Regions from separate parts of the Homo sapiens genome. Here region 2 is linked to region 1. Evidence: fine-mapped expression QTL. Tissue or cell type: whole blood. Region 1 holds a variant in brackets; the other region holds the start of a gene. All regions are shown on one strand. Distances are between the middles of the regions.

Region 1 (8,108 bases):
ACCTGATTGTTTACACCCCCTATAATGTAAAGGGACTGTTATCCTCTAAAGGAAGTCTCTGGCTAACAGATAATCGCCTCCTCAAATATTAAGTTTTGCTGCTGGAGGGATCTGCAGTTCAGTTAAAGGCCTGTCCTTTCCTGAACTCAGCCACTTTCCTTCCAGATGAAATTGGAGAACCTGAACATGATTGTGAAAAAATAGTGATGCAAACCTATGCAGCCAGAGAGGACATCCAGGAAACTCCTCTAGAAAACTGAGACTGGGCTGTCTTTACAAGTAAAGTTCTATTATAGAACAAGGAACCTGTAGGGCAGGGTATGCAATAGTCACCCTGGATGACATCATTAAAAGCACACCTCTTTCACCAGGTACAGTGCTCAATTAGCTGAGTTAATTGCTGTCATGAGGGTGCTTGAACTAAGCAAAGCTAAGGCAGTTAACATATATATGGATTCTAAGTATGCTTTCCTGGTTCTTCATGCTCATGCCGCTATTTGGAAAGAAAGACACTCCCTGACTGCTAATGGCTCTTTTATTAAATACCATTAGGAAATAGATTGTTGTCCTCAGTTTTCCTTCTGCAGGAAGTGGCAATGATACATTGCAAAGGACACCAGAAGGGGATGGATGAAATAGCTGAAGGAAATAGGCTAGCAGACCAAACAGCTAAGTCAGCAGTAAGAAGACCCCAAAGTCCCAGCACACTTGAAGGCTGTCTAATTTGGGAGGGCTCCATAAGGGAAATAAAGCCTCAGTATTCTCCTGCAGAGATAGAATGGGCCACCTCTCGAGGATACACTTTTCAGCCCTCAGGATGGTTACAATCAGAGGATGGCAAATGTTATTTGTCAGTCTCCAGTCAGTGGAAAGTTCTTAAGATCCTTCACCAAACTTTTCACTTGGGAAAGAATAAAACTCATCAAATAGCCCAGAGGTTGTTCTCAGGTAAATATCTACCAAAAACAGTCAAACAAATTGTTAATGCTTATAAGATCTGCCTCAAAAACAATCCCCTCAACAAATGGCATCTCCCCATCCCCAGCAACACAAAGAATGGGAAACTGCCCAGGGGAGGACTGGCAAATGGATTTTACCCATTTTCCAAAGATAAGGGGAATTCAGCACCTCTTGTTGTGGGTGGATGCCTTCACTAGCTGGGTAGAGGCATTTCTATGTCAAACAGAAAGTCCTCTAAGGTGATAAAAGCATTAGTCAATGAAATAATTCCTCGTTTTGGACTCCCTAAATACCTCCAAAGTGACAATGGCCCCTCATTTAAGGCAGCTGTTACCCAAGGGGTCTCAAAAGCACTGAGCATACAATACCATCTTCATTGTGCTTGAAGACTGCAGTCTTCAGGGAAGGTGGAGAAAACAAATGATATCATTAAGAGACACCTCAGGAAGTGGTCTCAAGAAACTCACCTCCTCTAAACTGCTTATCTTCCTATAGCCTTAGTGCAGGTGAGGAGCACCCCTTCAAATTTGGGGTTGAAGGGGTGTTCCTTCACCCTTTTGAAATGGTATATGGACGGCCTTTCCTTACCAATGATTTTATATTACATCAGAGAACTTCTGAATTGGTTAAACATGTAACCTCCCTGGCCCAGTTCTAGCAGGAATTAAAACAGTTATCAGAATTCCAACCCCAAGAACTAGGGCCACCTCTGTTCTACCAAGGAGACTTGGTACTGGTGAAGGATTTTTCCTCTCTTTTCCCCTCTCTAGGTCCCAGCTGGGAGGAACCTTATACCATCCTTCTCTCCACCTGCTCGGCAGTGAAGTTTGTGGGACTGGAATCTTGGATTCATCACACTCGAGTCAAGGCCTGGAATGACCCCTGACATCCCAGAAGAACATCTCAGATATCAGTGTGAAAAGTCTGGGGATTTCAAACTGAAAATCCAAAAGATAAGTAAATGAGTGGGAACTCTCTGTTCAGTTCAATCCCACCCTTCCTTACCAGATACTAAAGTCATTTCTACCTTTCCTCTTGAGATTTGCTGTTAGATATTAGAACTTCTCTTTGTCACATACTTACAGGGAGATTTTGATTATCCATGGGATTCCATTCATAACCTCATAAACCACCCCCACGAAGAAATTATATATCTCGGTGAGTAAGATTTAAAGTGGAACTTTATTACTTCACACATATGGGAATTGTTGTACTCACCTTGCTCTTTGCAGTAGGACTGCATACTGTGGCACCTTCTAAGTGGAATATTGGGAAAAGAGTCTCAATTGCCATAATCTTTTGCTTAGTTATTATTCATATAGCAGGGATAGTAGTCACAGGCAAGAGATAAACATGAAGATTTTGTTACTATCAAGTTTACTAGCATTCACTGTTAGATGTAGCAATGCCTCACATTCTTTGGCTCCTACAATATCAGATATTACCGATCTCTACAACAAGACTGATTACTGGGTTTGCCCTGAACAATTTACTCAGTTTAATAACACCAATGGACTCTTTGATGATTCAGAACTCACTATCTTAGGGTTTCCCTCTGATGGCTTTACCTTAAATCATTAAGGACCTAATAGGTATAAAGGGAACATGGTATGGGAGCATTTTTAACTCCACCCAGAAAGACACACCTCCTGATGGTAAAACTCACACCCTTAGACTAGGTGAAGTTGATAGAATGATAGCCAATGCCTGTCTCTGCTTTAAGAGTAAAGGAAAAGGACCATACTCGGGAAACCTTAAATAATTGCAACAGTATGCTTGTAATTGCTGAGAGCACAGAGATCTGGAGACTAAGAAGGAACAAGGGTGACACCAAACATTGGGAGAGACTGTGGAAAAATTTTAACAATCTAGCCAGACCTCCCAGGTGGAGTTCCCAATGGGAATGTCTACCCCGGGCAGAAATGCCACCCCTCGCCAACCTTATTATCAGGTAATAAATAGCACATGGTCCTTCCCAAACATGCCCACACATGGAATCCTGGACCCTTGTATGATATTTGATAATGACAGTGATCTGCAGATTTGTGAATGAACAGGGGATGTCTGGGCCAATAGCCGCTGTAAGGAGGGTTGTCTAAGATACTGGCTGGAACATATTGCGTCTCTGATCTTTCAAAACTATATTTGCCAAACAGATTCTTCCCTCCCAGCATGTAAAGTTCCAAACAATACTGTGGATGACTATACTAAGTATGGATATCCTTATTCTAAAGATGCTTGAATTAGATGTAGGGAAGGCAACCTTATAAGGCCTGGACTAAACTTAGCTGGAACCCTCATAAATCACAACATAGAACCATCCCTTCAGGGAACAGGGCTTTACTTTCTCTGTGGCTCCAGGCTATGCTTATTCCTCCCCAGGCGCTGGAGAGGAACATGCACTATAGTGGCAATGGTCCCCAATTTGTTATTTTTAAACCCCACTGACAGGGTAGCATTGTTGGGTGACATCGCCAATTTGGGCTCTTTTACAGAAAGTGCATTCCATCACACATACCAAAACAGGAGATCACTTATCTCTATGCCATCATATGGAGATTAAAATGAAAGAGAGAGAACTGGCAAGAATATGCACATGGCAATCCTATATTAGAAAAACGGAATAAAATATGCAATAGCCAGAGGCCTATTTTGGCTTGGCGGTGTTCCCCTTCTTGAAAGATCAGTGCTTAATATTTCTATCATGATGTAACAAGGGTGAAAGGTAACTGTAGGAGCCATAAAAGCCCAAGAGCAG[T/C]CCATAAATTCTCTGGCCTCAGTGGCCATGCAAAATAGACAAACTCTTGATGTCCTTATGGCTGAAGTAAGGGGCGCTTGTGCATTTGTAAATGAAACATGCTGTTTCTGGATCAACACCTCCAGTTAGGTAGAGGAGAATTTATGAGTGCTTAAAGACTCAATTAGAATCATTGACAAATTAGGTGAAAATGCAAACTCAGTTGGCTACAATCCCTTTTTAATGGATTCTAGTCTTTGTTTTGGACCTGGTTAGCTCTCTACTAGGACCTCTTTTTCCCGTGTGCCTTGTGATAATGTTTGGACCTTGCATACTCAATGCTATAACCAGAGAGATGGAGAAAAAGATGAATGGTACTCCCATGTGGAGTGCCACCACAGCCCTGGGCCCTGCCTCCTTGTACATGTGATGAGCACATTTCTACCTGGTTTAAGCCATTCTTGATTTGGGTTTCTGATCCACACAGAGTTGAATGTATATTCTTTTACTTTTTGCACCAAGAACCTAGGACACCTTCACTAACATATGGGACTAAAATGTTGTTGTTGTTGTTGTTGTTTGAGACAGAGTTTCACTGTCACCCAGGCTGGAGTGCAGTAGCCTGATCTCGGCTCACTGCAACCTCTACCTCCCAGGCTCAAGCAATTCTCGTGCCTCAGCCTCCCAATTAGCTGGGATTACAGGCATGCACCACCATGCCCGGCTAATTTTTATGTTTTCTATAGAGATGGAGTTTCACCTTATTGCCCAGGCTGGTCTTGAACTCCTTGGCTCAAGCAATCCTTCCACCTCAGCCTCCCAAAGTGCTGGGATTACAGGTGTGAGCCATTGTGCCCAGCCAGTACTAAAACTATTTAAAAGGAACCCATGAGGCTGGGTGTAGTGGCTCACGTCTGTAATCCCAGCACTTTGGGGGGCCGAGGTGGGTGGATCACTTGAGGTCAGGAGTTCGACCTGTAGTCCCAAATACTTGGGAGGCTGAGGCAGGAGAATTGCCTGAACCCGGAAGGTGGAGGTTGCAGTGAGCTGAGATGGTGCCACTGCACTCCAGCGTGGGCAACAGAGCAAGATTCCATCTCAAATAAAATAAGATAAAAAATAAAAAGAACCCATGAGATATCAAATACTAAGCATATTAAAGAAAATACTGAAATCAATTATATGCAATTATTGATTGATTGCTTAGAGCTTAACAGACTAGATCCTGTGGAGTTTTCTTTCTATCTGCTAGACTAGGGTGCCTTGAGAGAAGGAACCTTGACGCTTTCCTATGTAAAAGTTGTCATACCCTGAAAGTGCCAGGTACAAAGATGACAGTCAATTCATGTTTCTTGTTTAATTCTCAAAGTTATAGTCTAGACATAAGTTACACTAGAGGATTAGAATATATAATAAAGTACGAATTATGTGATATGGACAATGAATCAGTTTAAAATATTTTTGAAGCCAGGAGACATGCCCAATGCTTTTTGATGTCTCCCACAGCCAACGTGGAGTTTGAATGTCTTAGCTCAGTGGTTCCCAACTCTGGTTATACATTAGAATCACCTGTGCAAGTTTTACAACAAGGGATGCCATGACCCTGCTACAGATCCATTAAGTCAGACTGTTCAGGAATGATGTGTGTGTGTGTGTGTGTGTGTGTGTGTGTTTTCCATTTGATCCAATGAACAGTTGGGATCAGGCACTGATCCACTTACATAGTTTCAAATATTCCTAAGCAAGTTGAAGGCACATGGCCAGCTACTAACACACCATTTTCCAAAGCATGAAGTTAAATCACAGTCTGTGAGGCAGACATGGAAAATAGCTAACCACTCCTTTGTGGAAAGGGCTGGGCCAGCTGAGCCTAGCACCACAATGTCAGTGCAATTCTGTGATTATCTCTTGTTCAATGTGCATTTTAAGGTATATATTATATGGGAGAGAGGTATTTGCAAATTTAAGGAGTCAAGAATATGTCAGGATTTAGTCCTCATAAATTTCATGTATTTAGAGAGTGACATAATGCTGTTTGTCCCACAGTATCTACTTACCACTTATTCTTGGTGACAGAATTTTAGCTGGATGCATGACTTTCTAGATTATGACTGCATTTCTTGGACTGTCTTGCAACCATATGTGCCACTGAAGTATGGTCTAGCCAATGGGGTGTGAGCAGATAAATATGTACCTCTTCAGGACTGTTTTTGCTCTCACAGAGGGTTGTGCTCAGATCCCATAGTCCTTTTCTGCCTTTCTGCTCATTGGAAGATAATAAGAATTGAAGAAGTCACTTTGACTGTGAGAGGGAAGTTATAGGTTGAGATGGTAGAGTCAGCTCACCTGCCCTTGCTGCTTACCTTGAACTGTTACGGGAAAGGAACATTCATCTCTATCTTGTTCAAGGTATGGTGATTTGGTAGTCCCTCTCTCTCTCTCTCTCAGAGAAAATAATGTTATATCTTAACATATACTTAATGTGCTCATTTATGGTGAGTTTGTATAACTGATCTCTTACTTTCTAACTTTATTATTCTCAAATAGAAAAGTAAATATATAACAAAGGACTATTGGGTATGGCATAGGCAGTTGTGAAATGAGTTAATATTGATATAAGCACACATTAGAAAAAAATTTATAGGGAAGGGAATGGAGCTTGGCTTTGAGAAATGGGCAGACATCCTTCAAATTTATTTTTGTTATATACAACTTTGTAAGTGACAGTTTAAATTATCTTAGAAAACAGACCAGGTCTTCAGAAGGCCCTGAAATATATGTCTTTCTTTTTCTGATGGGATCCCAAATGGAGTTTCTTGATTCTTGCCAATGTTAAGTCAGTATTCATTTTCACCACTGAATTTTGAGATATAGAGTGCATTAATCACTTGTACAGAAGCAGAAAAGATATGAACAAACTCAGATTGAAAAGTTGACTTCATGGCAATTTGTTCTCTGAGTCATATTTTTCCCTCCTTTTATCTGGGTTCAAATATGTCATTATATAATTTAGAAACAGATGTAATTCCTCAGCTACAGTGTCTTCTGCTCAATGCCATGTTGTTTCTGCACCTGGTATGACTAAGTAAGCTCTTATCATAGCTGTACTTCCTGTGGAAAACAACTGTCAACTCTGGAGAAAAAAATGTTCTGCAGGCAATGTAAAGAAGAGAGGAAGATTTTAGAGTGGACTTGAAACTTGGAAGAAAGGAATGTCTTAGGTTTTTATTCTAATGATAGGCCCATGTCAGCTCCACCTTGGTGACTAAACCCTGATAGAAAAGACATAAGGGTCTTTCTGTTATGAAATGAGACCACTGGGAAATGAAGGACAATCTTGCAAAAAAGATAGCCAAAAGGGGGAAACCCTAAATTTTGAGTATATACTCTGCCCAAATCTCTGGCTAATTCACAAATCATAGATGTGCAGGATAGACTTCACCAAAAGTTAAAATATTTGTATGAGATTTGAGCTGACATCCAAAAGAAGGTGTGCAGTTCTTGTCAAATGAAGCTAATTGCCCTCTAGAACTCAATTCTTTTTAGAGGACTATAACAGAATCCAGAGTCTCCACCATGTAATATACACAATATCCAATATACAATCCAATATTATGAAACATACAAGGAACCAAGAAAATATAAAGCATTATCAAGAGAAGGAAATTGATCAATTGAGAATAACCCCAAGGTGACCCTGTTGTTGGAGTTAGCAGATAAGAAATTTAAAGCAGCTATTATAATTATGCTCAAGGATGTAAAGGATATGCATGTCATAAATGAAAAGATAGGAAAGCTCGTGGAGAAGTGGAAACTCTAAAAAGGTATCAAATGGAAATTATAGAACTGAAAATTACAACAGCTGAAATTAAAAGCCATCACTGGATGGCTTTAGCGGTGTAATAGAATTGACAAAGGGAAGAGTCCATATACTTGAGGATAGATTAGTGGAAATTATCTGCTCCAAAATATAAACAAAGCATTGGAGATTTGTGATACAATATGAAAAGATCTAACATACGTCTAATTGGAATTCTAGAATGAAAAGAGAATGAGAATGAAATGTTTTTTAAATGTGAAGGAACCATATTTCCCCTTTTATGGGTAAATGTTTTCACAAAATGTTTCTCCAATATAGTGAAACATAAATTTACAGATTCAAAACATCTCAGTGAACCCCCATCATTGTAAATCCAAAGAAAACAATGCCTAGGCATATCATAGTTGTATTGGACAGTGACCTTCTAAAACTGATGTCCTTTCTGGAACTTCAGAATGTGACATTATTTGGAAATATGGTTGCTGCAGATGTAATCAAGTTAAGATGACATCATATTGGATTAGAGTGAACCTTAATCCATTATGACTAGTGTCTTCATAATAAGAAGGGAAGATGAGACAGAGACATGAG
Region 2 (8,108 bases), 69 kb after region 1:
GAGGCAGGAATGCCCACAGGGGATTCACCCATCGTCATCAGCCACACGCGGGAGATGTAGGGCCAGATTTCTCCCTCCATCTGTGTGATCCCCAATCCTGTGACACTCCTGCTTCCTTTTCCCGTAGTGGGGGAACTCCCTCCAAATGGAATTTCAGTTGCTTAGATCTTTGAATTGGATAGTACTACCTATGCTCACACTAATTAAACAATTAAGTCGATGCATTTAATTTTATTTTCCCCTGGAAGATGTAATCACCAGTATCGTTATTGAGGAGGGAGGAGGGGAGAAGAAAACTCCAAACAGCAGAAAACATTCCTGAGTTCTGTGCGCAGTGCCTTTGATGGGTGTGCTCAGATTTTTTTCATCGAGGTGGTTTTGAATCAGTTGCAGGCCTTCTTTCATGTGGGTAACTATTTAAAGATGTGATATTCGGGGCAAGCGTTTGTACCAACTCATTTTCTCTGTCTTCTCCCAGGCCGCTGAGGACCGCACAGGGGAGCGGGCGGCGGCATCGCGAGGACTGACCACTGGGTGGCACTGTTGCTCCATGGAGAGCTGCCAACGGCGTCCCCGGGGACCCGGCCACGTTGAGCACAAAAGGTGGGATTTCTAAGGTGTGCTCGGTGATGAGTTTCTTAATGAATTTACCTCTTCTATGGAATCTCCCTCTGCAGCGTCTCCTGCCGCCCGGGGCCGGTTTCTGACTGTGGACTCTGGGTTGAGCCCATGGGGTCAGTGCGCGTGGAGCTTGCACTGCCCAGACCCACAGCCCCAGGAGCAGCCACCTCCCGTGTCACCCGGGCGGCGTCCTGATGACATCACTTAGAAGATTAAAAATAAATTGAAGCACATGTCACCTTAAAGGGGGCACAAAAAGGACATCTGCATGATTTGATGCATCCATGAGAAAGGGCTGCTGGCTTTTGATTTAAACTGTTGGGAAAGAGGATTTTAAAGCTTGTAAGCTGCTAGTATTTCCAAAAGAATGACTATTTTTTATTTTTTATTATTTAAATTAAAAAAGCACTTCCCTGTTCCCCTGTCCCTACACTCTAATTCTTCTTGGCTTTGATTTGGGCGATATTGTAGGCAGCTTTCTGCTCCACGGTGAAGGTCTGCCCGAGGAAGGACGGGGACAATCTTGGGGAAGATGGGGGAGGCGGGGACCGATTTTCCAGCCCAGAGCTGGGGTCTGCAGAACCAGGAGCCCGGGCCAGGCTGGCCTATCAGCCATGACCATCTGTGCACCTTAGCCACCTACTCACAGCACAGCCTCCATCTGCAGATCCACCTAGGACTCATCCATTCCTGACTGGTCTTTTGTTTCAAAACCCGGCAGCCCCGGCCCCTCCCAAGCCTGAAGTCACCACACACGCCCATCCTCCCATCAGTCACTTCCTGGCTAATGGGGACTGAGGCCCAATCATTCTCGTTTTTCATGCCTTGTCAGAGGCCTGAACACAGAGACAGAGGAAGGGAGAGAGAGAGAGAGGGCAGCTCTGGAGGAGGCGCAGAGTATGGGCAGATGTCCTCATGAAAAATTTACAAGGAATAATCAGAGGCCCCTTCTCTCCCCTCTGGCCAAAGTCCCCCTAGGCTTGTTGCCCGGGCCGCTGTGAGAATATTGGAAAAGTCCCCCTCGTTTTGAAGGCAATCTGGTTCTGGGGGGTTAATGCCCAGCGTTGATGCACTTGGCTGTCCTCTTGAGACCGGGTTGCAAATGCAGTTCAGGCAAAATTGATGAAGTATCAGTTAATCTGAGGCTGACAGTTTAGAGAGGTCACAGCTGCGAGGGGCTGCCAGGGTCTCCCAGAGACAGGACTAAGAAGAGTTAAAGCCAGGGAGGGCCCGGTGAAAGGAAGCATTCATCTTCTTCGCCTGGGCATTTCTCAAACATTGCGCCTGCCAGGATCCCTGAGCCTCTCTCCAGGTGAGCAGTGTGAGTGGGGAGGCTTTCACTCTGGTGCGCACAGTCATGCCTCCTCCCAGACAAATCCAAACCCACATGCCTGGTGTTCCTGGCTCCTTGGGAAGGAAGAAGGAGGGAGTTGCTGCTCCTAATTGAAACAGGCAGTTAGGTCTCCTATGCAAATCCCCTTGCTGTAATTGGCACTGTGAGTGCCGCCTGCTCATTCCTCCGTTTCCCGCTAGGGGAAGGTCATCTTGGTAAGAGATGTGTCCACACGGGGTGGGCTCTGAGCTGCTCAGAAGGAACTCTGCAGAAGTGGGGAACCATTGACTCACACCCTTCCCATAGGTGGTTTCCTTCAGGCTCCAGCAATTTTTTACAACAAGGTGGTACAATGAGAAAAATACCGCTCTGCTGTTAGACCACATATTTCAATCCTTGTACTTCCTAAGAGTTCTGATAGTCCAAGAGGCTGGGGGCTATGGCCATGTTTCTCACTCGAATTGCCCTGGTACTGAAATGCATCACGTGTAGGGGAGACTCAGTGTTTGTGAGCACACACTGAGTGACTATAACTGAGTGATTTCAGAGAGACAGAAGAAGGCATGCAAATGCACTTGTCTTGAGTTGTTTTCTAGGGGACATGCTCAGGGCTCTGGGACCTACCTAGTCATCTCGCTGCCTGGAGAGGCGGCTGCTTGGCCATGTTATCTCCATGCCTTCTAAATTAGGATGCGGCTTTAGGTTCACATTCATAAATAATTGGGTTTTATGGGATAGGAAGCAGCAAGGGCTTTGCGTTGATCGGCCCTGGGTTGGGTCCTGGCCTCCCTAAGCTTTGAGAATGATTTTATCATCACCATTGCCTGCTTATGGGAAAATAGGGCGGCAGTTAGTCGTGGAGTCCCTGTGACAAAGTGGCAGGTGGATGGCTGCGCCGGGGGTCTAACCTGCGCTGTCACACTCCGTTCCCTCTTCCTTTCAGTGACAAGAATGCAAGTAATAGTGCTGAGAATCGTGTGCTCAGCTGTGCTGGGCTGAGCATTTTATGTGCATGAACTCATCCCTCCCTGCGAACTTGTGAGAAAGGTATTATTATTATCATTATTAATATTATTATTACCGTATTCTCTCTGCTTACAGACAGAGAGATTGAGGTGTGGCAAGTAGGTAGTAAAATCCACCTTCTTCTTCTGTGAGGTTCCTCCTGTTCCCAGGGGTGTGGGGACGGTGAGTGGTGGATGGGTGAGGTCTTACAATGCAAAACTGCTGATTTCTACATCCGAAAAAAATCATGAATATGAACGATTATAGCCAGATTGAAACTATCATTATTTTCGGTAAGAAAAAGTGCGTCTATTCACAGAAAGTCAGGTACTTTTCCCCAAAATCACATGGGAAAAGTGTGCAAATACAGAACAGCCCTTCCAGGAAGGAACTATTTTCTCCGAAACAGGAAATTGTTGTACATTCAGACACACCATAAATACACGTCTAGTTTGTACATGGCAATTCCAGGGTCTGAGGCTCTTCCTTCCTGGCCCTAGAATGGCGTCTCTTGCGCTGTGGGCTTCCTGTTGAGGCAGGGGCTGAGGAGGTGGGAAGCAGAGGCTGAGATTTTCCTTCACCACGGTCACAGAAGATGCGCTGTTCCAGGGGCCTGGGTGGGAGCAGCCCAGGAGCCTGCGTCTCCCCTCCTCGGCCCTGGGAGGCGGCTGGACTGTGCCACACGGGACGGGTGCTGAGGGACCGCTGGGTGCCCACCTCCCTGACCCCTCCTGCAGGGGTGCCTGCCAAGCAGCCTGGGCACTGCCGTCTGGAAGATGCGCCGTGCCGGTTCTACACGGTGTTCCCTTGCTCCAGGCAGAAAGGTCAGTCCAGGCTTCTCACTCCATCGTGGCCAGAAGCCAAGTCTCATGGCATGAGATTCAACCAAAGAGAATCTCCTGGAGCTTCTTTACCTCATCAGACTTATATCCCACACAACACACACACACCCCCATCCATAAATGTGTGTATGTATATACCACACACGTACACACACATATGCCACACACATGCACACCACACACACAGAATGAATACACATACACCACACACATAAACACACACGTGTGTATGTATATATCACACACTTAAACACACGCATGCCACACACGTGCACACCACACACACAAAATGAATACACAGACACCACACACACAAACACAGAGATATCACACACATACATACACACACCATGCAACACACAAACATGCATACACATATTCCACACACAGAAACACACAGACACCACACATATACACACAGACATGCATACACACAACACACATATAAACACACAAATGCCACACACCAACACATGCCACACACAAACATGCACACACATACACCACACACATAAACACACAATACCACACACATACACAGACACTAACACACACTACACAAACATGCACACACATACACTACACACAAAAATACACAGATACCACACACATACACAGACACTAACACACACTACACAAACATGCATACACATACACCACAGATGTAAACACACAGATACATACATACACACACACCAACACCCACACTACACACATAAACACATGCATCATATGTAACACACATTACACAGACTTATATCCCACACAACACACACATACCCACATTCAACACACACACTTGCTCACACCCCTTCCCACACAATCCAACACACACACCCCCACATTCAACACACACGCATGCTCACACCCCTTCCCACACAACCCAACACACACACACCCACATTCAACACACACACTTGCTCACACCCTTTCCCACACAACCCAACACACACACACCCACATTCAACACACACATATGCTCACACCCCTTCCCACACAACCCAACACACACACACACACGCCTCCACGTACATCTTTTTATGGTAGTTATTTTTTTGTAAGTAAAATATTTGTATAATATCAGCTTATTGTTTGCCATAGCATAACTTATTTCAAACTTGTCCAACCTGCAGCCCATGTGGCCTGGGGTGGCTTTGAATGCAGCCCAACCCAAATTTGTAAACCTTTTAAAAACATTGAGATTTCTCAGCTATGATTTTCTTTAGCTCATCAGCTATTGCTAGTGTGGTGTATTTTATGTGTGGCCCAAGACAATAATTCTTCTTCCAATGTGGCCCAGGGAAGCCAAAAGACTGGACGCCCCTGAATTATGTGGTTCTCATCCTAGGTGATTTTGCCCCTGGAGGTAGGTGGAAAGTCTGGAAACATTTTTGGCGATCGCAGCTGGAGGGGGCTCTTGGCATCTACGGGTGGAGCCAGGGTTTAGGGTGTGTGCAGCACCAAAGGCTCGATGCCTCCCCAACACCAAAGAACCCTCTGAGCCCGTAGTGCGGAGACCAGAAACCCGATTTCAATTTCCTAGTAAAAGAAAACGGAAATGAAAACGACAAAACGGTCCTGTGTCTTCTCTCTTCTCGGTGCAGCTATCTGGATGGGGCGACTTGGAATTCCGAGTCTAGGCCTTGCACTGATTTTCCCCCCTGACATCTGGGAAGCCATTTCACTGTTTAAAACCAAAGATGCTGAGTGGCAGCTGCCACCAATTGGAAGGGGACAGGAGAAAGGGATTTTTATGAAGAGCCTGTGTGCCTTGGATGCTGCAGGTGGAGACCTCTGCAGTTTGTCCAGCAACTGCCTGCCAGAGATGGGCCAGAGAAGGGCCAAGCAGCTCCCTCCTATCGGAGGTCCACAGGTGGACCCCCACCCCCAGTCTCCATCCCCGGTCCACGCCCCAGTCCCTGCTGGTGGGGAAGCTGGGGAGCAGGCCATGCGTGTAATTCCAGAAGCTATTGCATGGCAAAGGCTACGTGCCCTCAAAGCCCGGGCACCTCCCTGGCCCCACAACTGCTTCACACAATACTTGTGTTTCTGTACGTTCTATGTGAAGTTTCAGGAAAGAATCTGTAAGTGATGTCTAAAGCAAGTTTCTGAATATTTATGCTGTAATACACGGCCATGAGCATGCTGGCTACTCATTTCTAATCCTATGACAAATGCACAAGGGCAGGTACTGGGAGAGTGAACTGTTTCCCTGGCCAGGGACCCAAGCACCACTTGGGGCATCAGAAGGAAGCCCTCTGGTTTTGGCCAAGGAGAAGCTTGCACTGTTTTACTAGAAACGTCCTATGTGAATCCATCCTCTGTGATTCCACGACTTTGTATGACTTGCTTGGTGCTTCCAAGGACGTAGGAACTGAAGGGTGGGGCATGTTCTGTGCACTTTTGTCATGGGAAAGCTGGCTTTTGGGAAACCCCCTGGCCCCACAGTTGCTCCCAGAAGCCATACTGGGGGAAGGGCCTGGGGAATGTTCCCAGAGGGTCATGTTGCCTTGATTCATCCTGATGGGGATTTGGGGAAGGGCGAGTGACACCATCATGACTGGGTGCGCCCAGACTGCCTGTCTGCCCTGCTATTTAGAAGCAATATTAGCGAGGGCTATAGTTTTTTTTTCTTTCTTTTTTTTTTTTTTTTTTAATCAGTAAAAATGAGTTCCTAACTTTAGTTCAGAGTCTTAGTTAGGTTTCAGTTTCAGAGAACTCTTTCAAAAAAGGGAATATGTTAGAAGGCCCACAGTGGCCCTTAATAATTTTGAATTAGCGTTAGAATGAGACACCTGATGGCAGTGATTCCGAGTGGAGACCCTGGGCCAGCGTCCCCAGCACCGCCTGGGAACCTGTGAGAAGCACAGCTTCTGGGCCACACCGTAGAGCTGTCTTTACATTTTATACCTCTTCAAACACCGCATAGTCTCACTCATAAGTGGCAGTTGAACAATGAGAACACGTGGACACAGGGAGGGAATATCACACACTGGGGCCTGTTGGCGGGTGGCGGGGCTAGGGGAGGAATAGCATTAGGAGAAATAACTAATGTAGATGAGGGGTTGACGGGTGCAGCAAACCACCATGACACGTGTATACTCATGTAACAAACCTGCATGTTCTGCACATGTATCCCAGAACTTAAAGTATAATATAAAAAGAAAAAAAAATTTATAACTCTTCCAGCAGTTTCTATCCATAGCACATAGAGCTTGTGTTTTGGTTTGGTTTTGCTTAATTTTCACAAGCCTGCAGTTGAAAGTGAAATGAGATGAGGTTAGCGAAAAGAGGCAGGAACTCTGGAACCTTAAGGTCCTACAACTTCAAATGTGTCACTGGCAATAACCTGGCTGCCATTTTGGTTTTGTCTAAATGAAAGCAATGATCAGTTAGTGTTATATAAGATATAAACATTTAAAATGTTCAAAATTCCCTAATCTTTCAGAAATGTAAATTGAGACAAAGAAAGGTCAGGGTTTCTCCTGGGACCACCCGTTGTCCCCAGATCAGACAAAAATCCAGTCTTCTGAATTCCCGTTGCAAAGTTGTGTTTGCATCACTGCATCTTGATCCTCTTCCTACTGCAATGTTTTAATTATCTAAAGAATAAGGGCATTAGATATGAGGGATAACATCATGAAGGATTTCCAAACAATTCGGTAGCCAGCGAAGATCACTGTTTGCTTAATTTCAATTGAGAGAGACAGGTCCGTCTTCTACAATGAATGCATTTTACACATTTTTAAATGTTTGCCTCATTTATGACATGTTTACCTTAAAAAAAATTTAATAAATGATTTTGGGCCAGGCGTGGTGGCTCATGCCTGTAATCCCAGCACTTTGGGAGGCCGAGGTGGGTGGATCACGAGGTCAGCAGATTGAGACCATCCTGGCTAACACGGTGAAACCCCATCTCTACTAAACATACAAAAAATTAGCTGAGCATGGTGGCACGTGCCTGTAATCCCAACTACTCGGGAGGCTGAGGCAGGAGAATCGCTAAAACCTGGGAGGTGGAGGTTGCAGTGAGCCGAGATCGCACCACTGCACTCCAGCCTGGGTGACAGAGAGAGACTCCATCTCAAAAAAAAAAATTTCATAAAGATGGGTTTTCTCTTATCCTGCCCAATCTTAACAGATGTTTGAAACCGACTCCCATAAAAAGTAGGCTTTGTAATCGAGTCTCAGAAAGTCTGAGGCTGCCTAGGTCTGCCGGATGCTCCCATTCGGTGACCTTGATACTAAACAGGAAAGGAAAGGGCAGCTCCATTTGCCCGAAGGCTTTTAACAGAGCTGGTGGGGGC

The links. PIP is the estimated chance that this variant, and not a neighbour inherited with it, causes the effect.
Region 2: LINC00487 starts here. The variant in region 1 is fine-mapped to the expression of LINC00487 in whole blood (TOPMed, PIP 0.99).

The regions. Positions count from the first base shown.
Region 1 is chr2:6,834,301-6,842,408 of GRCh38, reverse strand. It overlaps NRIR (negative regulator of interferon response), which reads left to right and starts at 1,945. Exons shown (of 4, transcript NR_126359.1): 1 at 1,945-2,118. It also overlaps a transcript of CMPK2 not described here. The variant T/C (reference allele first, on the strand shown) is at 3,719.
Region 2 is chr2:6,765,754-6,773,861 of GRCh38, reverse strand. It overlaps LINC00487 (long intergenic non-protein coding RNA 487), which reads left to right and starts at 3,551. Exons shown (of 6, transcript NR_038369.1): 1 at 3,551-3,783. It overlaps LOC105373404 (a long non-coding RNA gene), which reads left to right. Exons shown (of 4, transcript XR_922745.3): 4 at 479-1,039. RefSeq lists an enhancer at 1-695.